Linked DNA regions of Homo sapiens. The protein of the gene in region 1 interacts with the protein of each later gene in a biochemical or structural test. Each region holds a gene or a part of one and is shown on either strand. Other genes may lie near its edges.

The links.
Region 2: the proteins of SCAMP1 (region 1) and SYNRG form a complex in vitro, tested with the Homo sapiens proteins (one study listed by BioGRID).

What each region holds. Positions count from the first base shown.
Region 1 is NC_000005.10:78,475,533-78,481,449, forward strand, and holds the end of SCAMP1 (secretory carrier-associated membrane protein 1), read left to right. Parts: coding exon 1-136; 3' UTR 137-5,207; downstream 5,208-5,917. UniProt on the Homo sapiens protein: Functions in post-Golgi recycling pathways. Acts as a recycling carrier to the cell surface.
Region 2 is NC_000017.11:37,550,392-37,557,685, forward strand, and holds part of SYNRG (synergin gamma), read right to left. Parts: intron 3,669-7,294; coding exon 2,724-3,668; intron 1-2,723. UniProt on the Homo sapiens protein: Plays a role in endocytosis and/or membrane trafficking at the trans-Golgi network (TGN). May act by linking the adapter protein complex AP-1 to other proteins. Component of clathrin-coated vesicles.

The DNA.
Region 1 (5,917 bases):
TAGTTTTGAGAAGGCCCAACAGGAGTTTGCAACAGGTGTGATGTCCAACAAAACTGTCCAGACCGCAGCTGCAAATGCAGCTTCAACTGCAGCATCTAGTGCAGCTCAGAATGCTTTCAAGGGTAACCAGATTTAAGAATCTTCAAACAATACACTGTTACCTTTTGACTGTACCTTTTTCTCCAGTTACTGTATTCTACAAATATTTTTATGTTCAAAACACACAGTACAGACAGCATGGATATTTCCTGTTCACTTGTGCATGGGCTAAAACCAGGAAAACTTCCTTGTCTTATTACTTTACCTAATAGTTTCTTAATATTTCAGTGCCCCTTGCAGAAAAAATATTACATGCTAAATAAATATTCTCCATATTTTTGGGGGATGACATTCAGTGAATTATTTCAGTGGTGACCCACTGAAAATTAATAATGGTACTTATGATTAAAAACGCATTTAATACTAACTGCAGTAGTTCTTTCAAGAATCTTTAGAGATAAGGATTGCACATTGGAAAAGTAAACCATGTTTCATTCCTTTTTCCCTATTTATATTGAAAGAAATAGGCCAGCAGAGACTTAGGGATTTTAAATTGGCTTGCTTTTTAGCTGTTTCAGTCACCAGTGAAGAGCCTATGTGCATTTTGTAGTAGATAATGTAAAATTTGTCATCTTTTTCTTTTCTTTTTTTTAGAATAGCTGATATTTTGATAACAATCTCTAATTTGCATGGGCACCACATTTCTTATATTAAAAGAATTAGTGTTTTGGCTTCTGTACTGCTTATGGTTGTAGGATTCAGGGGTTAATGGAATCACAGAAATGATATTCTGCAAGAATTTCTTTTAAATAAAAAGTTTGGGGGTGCAATATAAGAAGTTTATATAATATGCAGTACATTATCCAAAAGAGAAGGTAGTTAATGCAGTAGAAAGTAGTGGTAATAATTCCTTTTTAAAAAAATTTCGGTAGTCATATAGTAACATTTTGCTATATGAAAACTTTGGTATATTCTGTGGTTACAACTAAGATTGTGTCTGGCAGCTCTTTTTTGGGGATGTGTGTGTGTGATTTTTAACAGAGGTATTAAAGGCTAGCCTAACTGTTGTCTAAAAAGATTGTACAGTATTTAAGGGATTTTCCTTTTAGCTTTTCATCTCCAGTGGCATTAAACATAAAAAGACCCTGGCATTTTTTCACATACTTGAATCCCTAAATGCACCTGTCTTTCACTTTTTGAGACAGACTGAATATATCTAAAATTTCCAGCAATAAAAAAAAAAGCATTTAACTTGCACCAAGCAAGAAAATATAAATACAGTTAACTGCATTAAGATAATCACGTTAAAATTGTTACTATGCAGCACAGAACTTCATTCTTATAGTATTCTTGGGTTCAACCTTTGAATCAATTTTACCACTGATTAAATAAATGACTCAAAGACATCTGTAAGTCATGCTGCTGTGTTTTGAAAGTCTTTAACTAAATTAAGATTGCAGAATGATAGTGATTATTCAATTAGATTTTAAGTAAGGATTGTGATATTAGAGGCTGGAAATCCTTATTTTTTAAAAAATCAGATAGGCATAAATAGTTAAATCACTTTCATTCTCCCCAAACCTGTAGTTACAGAAAAAGTTTTATGCTAGAGGTGGGATGCCAAGTTTTCACTATCCATGAAGCAGCGCTGCATGTCACTAGGTAACACAGATCCATCCAGATGGTGTTTACATTTGATTTATTTGGGATCTTATTGACATCAGGTATACTTGGAAGACATTTCTTTTATTCTTCAGCGTATGAATTTAAAGCTATTTTTTGTAAATATTTCTAATCAGCGATAATTTCTACCTATGTTCTCAACCAACTTAGCCAGTTTGTTTTTCAGAGCCTGTAGTCTTATTGGAAATCTATTTTATCAGTGTGCTTTATTGAGTGTGGATTTTGCATACATTCAAAACATTAACCACAAAATACAGCAAGTGCACCTATATTCACCATTAACTTATATCCCAAGTCCATTTTTTCCTGTACACTACAAACAAAAGATATATTAGAGACTTTTGAAAAATGCTGAAATACTTTGCTTCAGAATTGGAATGTTTATATTATGTAGAAATCTTCAAAGGTAGCATTATTAAATAGCAAAGAATAATTAGAACCCACATATCTTTTTTTGTGTGGATGGGGAAAATGTTTTAAAATCCAGTTATTTAATATGAGTTTGAGAGAGAAAATTGTTTTTTAAAAATATATGTGCATTGAAATGATGGCAATGCTTATAGTATGATCAAGTATGAAAGGAACTTTAAATTCTTATATTTACTTTTCTCTCAGTAAATTGTTAAATTTTCACTCAGCAAAAGATTGGCATTTGTTAAGTGTTCTATATTTAGTACTAAAATCACAGTCATGAAATCATAGTCATAAAATGGTCTTCACACAGCAGTCATCCGTGTCATTTATCATTTTGTAATATTAAATTATGGCAATTTTATTTCAAACTAAAGTTTGAACACCGGAAAGTCATTACTCAGTGATTTGTAATTTGGGACTTGGATTATTTATCTAGAGATGTTTGTATATTTTGTCAGTAACTAATACTGCGCTGCCATCATGGTGACTGTCATGGTTCTACAGAAATGCCCTCCATGTGTCCCTCTAATGTTGCATGTTTCAGTGGGTTGGAAGTTTTGTATATTTATTGTATTAACACAGAGTGTCATAAAATAAAATGCTGTTTACTGGATGTTTGTTTGTATAATTTTGAACACTATAATAGCAATTCAGAGACAGACATTGTTAAAGGTTTGATGTATATAGAAATTCCATGTTTGATTTTTTAAAATATGTGTATAAGTCTGTCATGTGCTAAACAAAATAATATGAAAGACCTAGTTAAAAATTCTAACCAATGTAAAATGACCATTTTTCTGTTGCATTAGACCTTTACAGGTAATGGAACATGAGCTTCACCCATATTAAATATTTTGGCCCCTTTAAGGTCAAAATACAGATCATCTAGAAGTTAGATTCAAAATGGAAAACCTATTCATGGCTCAGATTTTTCATTGTGGGTTAAAAATGGGTGTCTCTGTACTAGTATTGTATTTATTCAATTGAACTTGTATTCTGATTTCTATCCTTGCTACCTATTGCTGTTTTATGTACTGATGAAAGTACCTATTTGTGTATATTGGATTTTTCACTTGGTTAGCTAAAGAAGATGTAAAAATATCTAAAATAATGTTCATGGTGAATCTTATTTTGAGAAATACATGTTAAAAAAGGAACAGTATTCTTTATTTTCTGGGTGTTATATTTAAAAAAGCAAGTTTGGATTTTTACACCTAATTTACTAGGAAAATATTTTATTCTGTAATTCATGTTAAGATTATGTATGGTTTGCATTTTAAGGGGATTTATGTTAGGTTAATTAGTTGTTTCTGTAAATCATTTGTAATAGCATAGTGCTTTTTACTCATTGCTGTATCTTTTTCTGAAAACACTGTTGTTAACATCTAATTCAGTATCCTTATTGGTACAAATCTGTGTTTGGCATGACTGTTTATATACAGAATTTGTTACATTTTGAGCATTTTTTCCCCTGCTTATGTATACCTTAGAGTTACCATGGCTGTCATATACCATTTCACTATATCTCCTTTCAGTTTTTCCTTAAGGAAAATGTTTAGAGGAATTTGTTCATTTCATGTGATTAAGCCCTTTAGAGATGAAATAAGATTGGTTAATTTTAAAAAAATTGAGGATGGTTAAAAAATAGAAAACACCTTACTTTGATACATTTTAAAGTACAATAGTATACATTTATTTAGAGTAGACTAATGTGTTTAAAACATGAGTTGTTTTAAATACTTTTTTATTGAGCTAAAAAGTTTTATCTCACATATTAAGTATTACAGAAAGTGAAGTATTTTGGCTAGAATTTTAGGGCATATTTTATAAAGCAGCATGCCTGTAATATTGGTGGGTATTTTTAAACTTTAGGACTTTATCACAGTATGTAGAGAGCTAGAAATAAATCTAGAAACTTTCTAAGCCAGGTATTGCCACTAACCTGTCTTATATAAGCAGATACCTCTTATTTGAAGATTGTAGGAAAATAGAGAAAGACTGTTCTCCAGTTTTCTCACCCCCGCTGTGGGTTTTATATTTACAATTTAACTTTGGGGTTTGGGTAAGACAAACATTTAATGTATAGGATTTTGGCCAGGTGTGGTGGCTCACGCCTGTAATCCCAGCACTTTGGGAGGCCAAGGTGGGCGGATCACGAGGTCAGGAGATCGAAACCATCCTGGCTAACATGGTGAAACCCCATCTCTACTAAAAATACAAAAAAAAAATTAGCTGAGCATGGTGGCGGGCGCCTGTAGTCCCAGCTACTTGGGAGGCTGAGGCAGGAGAATGACGTGAACCTGGGAGGCGGAGCTTGCAGTGAGCCGAGATCTCTCCACTGCACTCCAGCCTGGGCGACAGAGCGAGACTCCATCTCAAGAAAAAAAAAAAAGAATTTTCATTAGTGCTGGCCGTGTTTCAAATGGCAAGGGAACATGGGAACTATCATGTGGCAATGTAGTGAGTGTTAAACTTTGTGTTTGTCCAAATCCTGATTTATTTTTCAGTTCATATCTTTCTGGGCTTGACATGGCTGATGGTGTAGCTGAAACCCTCCTAACACTAAAAGCCATTTAATCTTTTCTGTAATAGGAGCAGAAAATAGTTAATCATCCACCTAGTAATATAAGATTACTGTGAATATTATCTTCTATACATTAAAACAGTTCTAGTTTGTAGAATAATACCATACAAGTTTTATTTTTAAATTCTAGTTATTTTCAGTGCTTACTTAAATGTAATTCTAGAATTCCTCCACAACTTTTAATATTTTGTATGCCAGTGATTCTCAAGATAAATCATGATTGTAGTAGTTGTTACTGTTGGCAGTTTGTAGTAGTATTCAGGTATTTTGGGGATGGGGGAAAACACCAAAAATCAGTGTCTTTTATCTGGTGATCACTGTGGTATCTACAGTATTCTAGTCTCCTGCACAAAAACTGAACCCACTGGGCCTATGCATCCCTCACACTTTTTTTCTAGTATAAAAGCAATACATAATGTGTTGTAGAACAATTAAAAATTCAGAAAGTGATACATGAGAAAATAAAAATAAATCCTTAATTCTGTCATCTTGGGGTACCTCTGCTAATATTTTATTGTCTTCCATTCTTTTTCTATGCATATGTGTTTTGTTTAGTTAAGAGATATAAGCAATATGGATTTTTAAAAACCTTATTTTCCCCTCACTTAGCTTTATGTCATAATGGCGCAATAGTTTAGTTTTTTAAATTAACTTTTTTAATTTATAAAATTAATGTATATTTCAGTATAAATTATAGAAAATATAAGCAAAAGAAATAACCAAAATTCTCATAATTTTACATCCATGAATAACTTCTATTAAAATCTGGTTTATATCTTTCTATTTTTCTAGGAAGACAACTTCCTAATATTAAAAATGAGATGACCCCGTACATCCTTGTACATCCTTTAGGGATGTCTACCTACTCCTCAAAAGCCCCACTTCTTTGGGTCCTTAAAGTCCACATTGGTACTGGATGTCATCTGGCCATAGTGGACTCATTCCTGGCTTATCAGTTTTTTATTCTGAATGTAGATATGTCTAGAACTCTACTGTTCCAGAATTGGAACATAAGAGGTAGCCATTTTCTGCCATGAGGAAGGAATCACCAAGAAAGCTGGTCTGCAATGAAAATGAAGAATGAAACAGACATAACAGGAGATGTAAAATGAATGACATAGAAAAGATCTTAGTGGCTTTCCTTTTCCTTTATGGAGCCCTACTTCTCACCCTTATCCCATTATCCTCATAATCTTA
Region 2 (7,294 bases), on another chromosome or scaffold:
AAGGGGAAAACCCTCTAGTCTTAGGATACTATTGCTTTAAACTTGGTATCAGCCAGGTATTTCTTTGGTCTAACCCTGAAAAAGTACAAATTACACACATCCCCACACTTTCAAAATATGCCAAAGAATTATTTATTAACACAAGACTTACAGATCACAAAAGAGAGTGATACAGAAGAGCTGGAAAAGAAGTCATCAGAATAAGCATGCAGATCAGTATTTGCAGAGGAATATACTAAAGTAAATTTGAAGGCACATTCACACAGAAAATGTCTAAATTGAAAAAAAGACATCAGAAAAGCAGCCAAAAAAAAAAAAAGGTGCTAATTAAAATACAAAGATTTTCAATGTCAAAGAAGAGCTACTTTACAGATAGGTAGGTAGGTAGCTACAGAAGTCTTGCTAACCCTTTGAAAATGTCACAGATGAGGGTCAGCTCTTGCTGCCAATAAAACCATATGATTTTAATGACTGCACGTCAAGATGCTTCAGTGCCGCAGATTAAATTTAGTCAGGGGGAAAAAACAGCCTAGTTGAAATTATATGCAGCAAGGCCTCAAAGGGTTAAATGTAATAATACGCAGAGAAATCAGGCAATGTTATCAGTATTATCTACCTTCCATACAAATGATTATAGCAAGAGTTAAAAGAGACAGTATCCCCTTCAGAGTTAAGTTAGGGCTTCTAAACAGGATTAAGGTCCGCAGATAGCAATCTACCAGGTTTTATTCTCTCTTCATCAGCTCACTTCTTATTTCTCCAACAAGAAGTACCTTTAACCCTCAAACTAAGAGAGCAAGAGATACTGTGGTGAACATGAGGATAAAATAAAACTACATTACTTTGAATAAGTCCTTGCCATTTACCCTCTACAATACATTGATGCAGCAATTTTGCACAACAGCAATATAGCGCATTGGTCAGACATCAACCCCTTTTAACAACCGCTCTAAAGGGATACTGCTCCTTTCTGACAGGAGGTTTACAGATCAATGGGAGGAAACAATCTGCTTTTAAGAATATCCTCCAACTGAAGAGTTAGCTTGAACATTACAGGCTCCAAGCTGAGGATGTTCCAAACATACATAAAAGAACATGAGCACAGAAGATTATTTTAACAGGTCAGTAAGAACAAGCTTGGTCAAAAAAACCAACCTCCAAATAAAATGGGGGAAAAAAAAAGACACCCCAAACCCGGATTAGCCTCATTTCATAAAGACATCTACCTTGGCACTGTGAAAGAATATAGATTCACTTTCAGAAAAATAGTTTCTAATTAATAACTTCAGAGTCCAAAAGGCTAGTATACATGTTATGAGATTTTTAAATAAAAATCCAATATTGTTCAGAAAACAGAGCACTTTGCAACCAACTGCTGTGGTTCAAGCAGCTCATAAAAAAAAAAAACCAACAAAACAAAACCCACAATCACTCTATCAAACAAACAGCAGCAAAAAAATAAGAAAATTTCTGAGGAAAAGTACAAAAAAAAAAAAAAAGACAGAAAGTAGACAGTCAAGGGCACAGGAGCTCTTCAGACCGCCCACTGCATTTGAAAAATACCTTAGCAAGTAGCAACATGAAACATGCAATGTCTCTGCTAACTTGCTCCTGATTCAGCAGCCTGTTTAGCAATACCTACAACATTTCCATAACCAAAGGATGGATGCAATTTTGTTTTCCGACTTGCCAATTTGACATATGCAAAAGCTATAGGACTTTACAATTTCTGCCTGAATCTGTAAACTTGGAAGTGTCTCACGTGTCCCCCCTAGTTAGACAAAACCAAATCCTTCATATGCATAATACATTTTCTAGAATAATACAGTGATACTGAGATATTTCTCATTATTAAAAGGCCACAAAATAGGTTTATCTTTCTATATACATATCAAAAAACAAAACAAAAGAAAAACCAGGACACTTGGGAATCTAGTTTTTATGACAGAAGTTGAACTAGAGAGTAAATTGCTACATGTAAATCTACACAGAATTTAAAGAGGGCTCCCTAATAAGATGTTTTCAAACATTTTATCAGAAAGTTAGCAGTTACCCTATCCTAGCATCTACAGATTTGTTACAACTTAATATTTCCAGTAATAGAGTTAACACTGAAAACAGCTCCTGGATTCCACTGACAACACACACCCTCCTCTTTGCCAGGCCCTGACATACAGAACATTCATATATAAACTCTTTCCCTCTTCTTCTCTTAAAAGGATGTGGCAAACTGCACTACAAGTGGTTAGAAATTTTTACTTTCTTGACCTAACAAGAGTTAATTTCTGTAAATCAAACAGAATACTATACTGGCAGTTGCTGTGTATACCCAAGAGAAGAAAAAAGGAGAGGGAAACACTGATTTTACTCACAGAAATGAAGGAACACTGCCGGCACTGCAAAGGTCTTTATCAAATTTCTGGCAATGTGAGGTTCACTTAGCAGTGACTTTTTATGTGCCTCTAACACCAAGCTGGTGCTAGATTTCAAAAATAAAAATATCTTAGCTACCCAATCTAAGTTCCACAGTAGCCATAGTATCCATATCAAGTATCCATAGAATCAAATTTAACACTGCTTTAAGGAGACTGGCAATAAAGAGGTTGATTATTAGAGATTCATAAAGCTAAAGGGCCAGAGCCTTACTCATGTAAATCAACACCCGCAGAATCATCTTTGAAATCTACAACACCATCACCAGAGCAATCTCACCAATTCCTCACCTGCAGCAGGAGGATGCTGGCCACTAACTGTTGGTAAATCCAAAGAGCTATCAGACATGACATGCTTAAGATCTCCTCCCACATCAGCCAATTTCATGTCAAACTGAACAGAGAGTGCATCTTCAGAGTCCTCCTTGCCAACACTGCTGCCACCAATGGAAGGGAGATCTAAGGACTTCACTGATGCAGAGTCTTCTTTGGTGTGTCTGAAAGCCACTGCTTTCTCTCCCAGGGATTTGTCCGAGTTTATGGAAGAAAATTTACTGGAGTGGAAGTCAGCAAAATCATCATCACTTTTTCCTGAAGGAGTGTTATCTTTCAGGTCTTCAACACCTAGTCCAGACCCTTCCAGAGAAAGTTGTCTGAAGACATCGTACTTGGTAGACGCAGCAGTCGAGTTTTGTCCACCCTTCACTGTGCTGCCCACGTTGCTGGTTAGAGGAACAGGACTGGCTTCCTCTTTAAGGGCATCATATTTGTCATCCGGCTTTTGCTCAGATGAAATAGAGCTATTACTGAAAGCCATAAAATCTGCAAAGTCATCCTGCTCCCCAACAGGTGCTAGACCAGAATATTCCCCAAAAAGGCTGAATTCTCCAAAATCATCAGCCAAACTAGAAGTTTTTGTTGCTGCCAATGCTGTCATAGTAGCAGCAGAACCTGTTGACTGTGGTGTAGAAACTGATTTTGATGTGCTAAACACAGCTGAAAAAGACAATGGTTTCTCGCTGCTGCAATTAACTGAGGAAAACATATCTAGGTCTGCTAAGTTCAGAGGGTTTTTCACTTGTGTTTGTTGTTTCTGTTGTATAGTTCCTGAGGGGAAGGATGGTGGAAAAGTTTTGTCTTTTGTTGGTGGCTCTAGTGGTGATACACTATCGGCTGTTTTAAAATCGGTGAAACCATCATCAGTTCCTGCAGATCTGAATTCTGCAAAGCTTTCTCCTGAAAGAAAAAATACCACCAAACAAATGGGAATGCTGAACTGAAAACCATATAATACACAGTATATTAAACTGCAAGCATAATTTTACTGACTTTTCTCCACTGACTTGACATTACTTAATAATGTTTACATACTTTAAACCCTATCGAACTACACATTTATTTCCACACTGAAGTCTAGTGATACTGAAATAAATAGAAATCGAACTGAAAGTACCTGACGGTACCATTTTCATTTGCTCATGCTTTTAGTGTGGGATCTCTCTTAGCTCTAGATCCTACAACTGGCTAAAAGTACTCCTCTCAAGACTTTTTGTTCCCACAGCTAGCCAGCCAAGCAGACAATACAATAAGAAATAGGGCTAGAGGTTCTTGAAGAGAGGCATATTAAAACAGTGGCCCTTTAAAGATAAACATGTTACCCATTAAAAAAATCAGAGGTACCAATAAAGTATTATGAAAAATCCTACATCTAATATTCAGGATGTACAACACTTGGTTTAGCCAGGCACTTTAAGAATAACATTAGATACTATGTGGTCTTGCTCAAGTAAATGAAGGCATTAATTTGAAGGGAACTTTGATGAAAATTTTTGAAAAGGTATCTATTTATTTGCAAAGCATTCTAGGTGGGGCACATTGTAAAGCAGCTCCTCCCTATAGTCTCTAATAAGCTGAATCTCACAGAAAAAAAGTCCTTGAGCACTTGAGCTTTTCTAGAAATCAGCTGTCTCACTGTATCAATGAGCACTTATTTTTATTTATTAAAATTCAAAAGGATTTGAATAAATACCAACTCTATTATATAAAGTTTTAGAGGGTATGACTTAGACTTTAGTTTACATTATGCTACTCTGAGGATGGGGTAACTGACGGAATTGTTTATTTATTTATTTATTTTTTAAATAAAATTTCTTTTGCCCATGACACAGCTCTCAAGAGATCCTGAGAAACATGTGTCTCAGATTTGTTTATTTTTATATTCTGGTTAAATAGAGTGGGTACTTATGTACTTCTCATAAATAATTAAACAGACTCAGTTAAGACATTGATAAAAATTTAGGCCTATGATTCTTTTTTTTTTGAGACAGAGTTTCATTATTGTCGCCCAGGCTGGAGTACAATGGTGTGATCTCAGTTCACTGCAACCTCCACCTCCCAGGTTCAAGCGATTCTCCTGCCTCAGCCTCCCAAGTAGCTGGGATTACAGGCACCTGCCACCACGCCCGGCTAATTTTTGTATTTTTAGTAGAGACGGGGTTTCACCACGTCACGTAGGCTGGTTTTGAACTCCTGACCTCGGCTGATCCACCTGCCTCGGCCTCCCAAAGTGCTGGGATTACAGGCGTGAGCTACAGCACCCGGCCCAAGGCCTGTGATTCTTAAAAGGTTTCTATATTCTTTATTATCATAGTAATGTTATCATCACTCAGGTACAGCATCAGGATACAGATGATCTCAGTTTTCTAATAGCATCTGAAGGTCTACCATAAAATCCACTAGGCTATACCAGGTAATAAAAACCAGAGATAAACCAAATGTAAATATAGTTATGCCAAGGCCGAACACAGTGGCTCACACCTGTAATCCCAGCACTTTGGAAGACCAAGGAGGGTGTATCACTTGAGGCCAGGAGGAGTTCAAGACAAGCCTGGCCAACATGGAGAAATCCCATCTCTACTTAAAATACAGAAAAATTAGCTGGGCATGGAGGCACATGCCTGTAATCCCAGCTACTCGGGAGGCTGAGGCACAAGAATTGTTTGAACCTGGGAGGCGGAGCTTGCAGTGAGCCAAGATCCCACCGCTGCACTCCAGCCTGGGGGACAGAGAGAGATTCTGTCTCAAAAATAAAAATAAAAAAACAAATAAATATAGCTATACCAACCAACATCATTTATTATTTTAAAAAATGACTGCCATTTCTGGAGATTAAAATTAAGTAAATTAAAATATAAGCTTTAATTTCCTCACCCATTTTTAAAAATTACATTTTCCCCTAAAAATGACATATAAGAGCATATCAATAATAAAAATGTATTGAGAACCAAAATCCAATTCTTAAATTGGCATATAAAATAATGCAGGCTTAAAATATACTGTGCTTGGGCCAGGCACGGTGGCTCACGACTGTAATCCCTGCACTTTGGAAGGCCAAGGCGGGTGGGTCACCTGAGGTCTGGAGTTTGAGACCAGCCTGGCCAACATAGTGAAACCCCATCTCTACTAAAAATACAAAAAATTAGCTGGGTGTGGTGGCAGGTGCCTGTAATCCTAGCTACTTGGGAGGCTGAGGCAGGAGAATCGCTTGAACCCTGGAGACAGAGGTTGCAGTGAGCCGAGATTGTGCCATTGCACTCCAGCCTGGGCAACAAGAGCAAAACTCCGTATCAAAATAAATAAATAAATAAAATAAAAATAAAAATAAATTTAAAAAATAAAATATACTGTGCTTGTAACAAGATATGTACTTGGATATAGCAGATGAAAAAAAAAAAGCACCAAAAACAATACAAGCTAATTTTTCCTCCTAACCTGAGATAGTTAACCAATTCACCAGCATAATTCATCAACACCAAGGAATTCATCTAATAAGAGAGGAACAGCATTCAGATTTCCTGTAATTTATATTTGTAAGACATACCACTAGTAAAACTCAAGTCAATTTCACAAACTGACAGAAGATGTAAAACTTTTAAAAATCACCCTAGAATTTTAGATTAGTAGTATCACTGATTATACTTGTATTATTTCTGAAAATGTAGAGGTGATAAGCGGCCATTTTTATCACAGCCTAAATTTTTAATGTGTTGCTTTGAAATATCTGTGAAATTGACAAGTATTGCTTTGTTTGTTTGTTTGTTTTAATCACCACAGCAAACTACACTTACTGATGAATTGTAAACTTTTCCATTGGAAATGTAAGCTGGGTGAAAGGGCTAAAAGGAAATAAAAGCGGGTGAGTTTACAAAGGGAATTTGTTGGCAAATAAATTAGTCACAGTCAATGGAAGCTTGTCTATCAGAAGGCATATTAAGCATATTATTTCATGGTTAGATTTTTGGTTAATGTCTACATACTTGTAAGTTTCCCTCTCCGTCACTTTTTAGACTCCAAAAAATCTCAAAAGGGACCACTTTTTTGCTAAAATTTCAATAAAAATGTGTCATTTCTTTATACAGAACATTTCCTCATTTACTTTAATTTATGGCTTAAACTCTGGAGATGGAAAAAAGGAAACATTATTAAACTCTGTCATTCAGTAACCTAAGAAACCCACAGCTCTGAACAACACAATACTATAAGATTCTTCATAAATTCTAAGATACTAACGTACTTTGACGAAGTCAAGCCAATGTATTTTTTGAGTATAAAAAATATATCACACCATTTAGGAAAATAAAATCTATTCTCCTAAAATGAACAAAGTTGGCAACTCTACTTGGAAAACCTTAGAATTAAAGTTAAGATAGGAATGAAAGCAAGTAAATGAAAATAACAACAATCTGGAACTTTGTTTAAAAAGTACTGAAATGTGGCTGGCCATGGTGGCTCACACTTGTAATCCCAGCATTTTGGGAGGCTGAGCTGGAAAGATTGCTTGAGGCCAGGAGTTCAAGACTAGC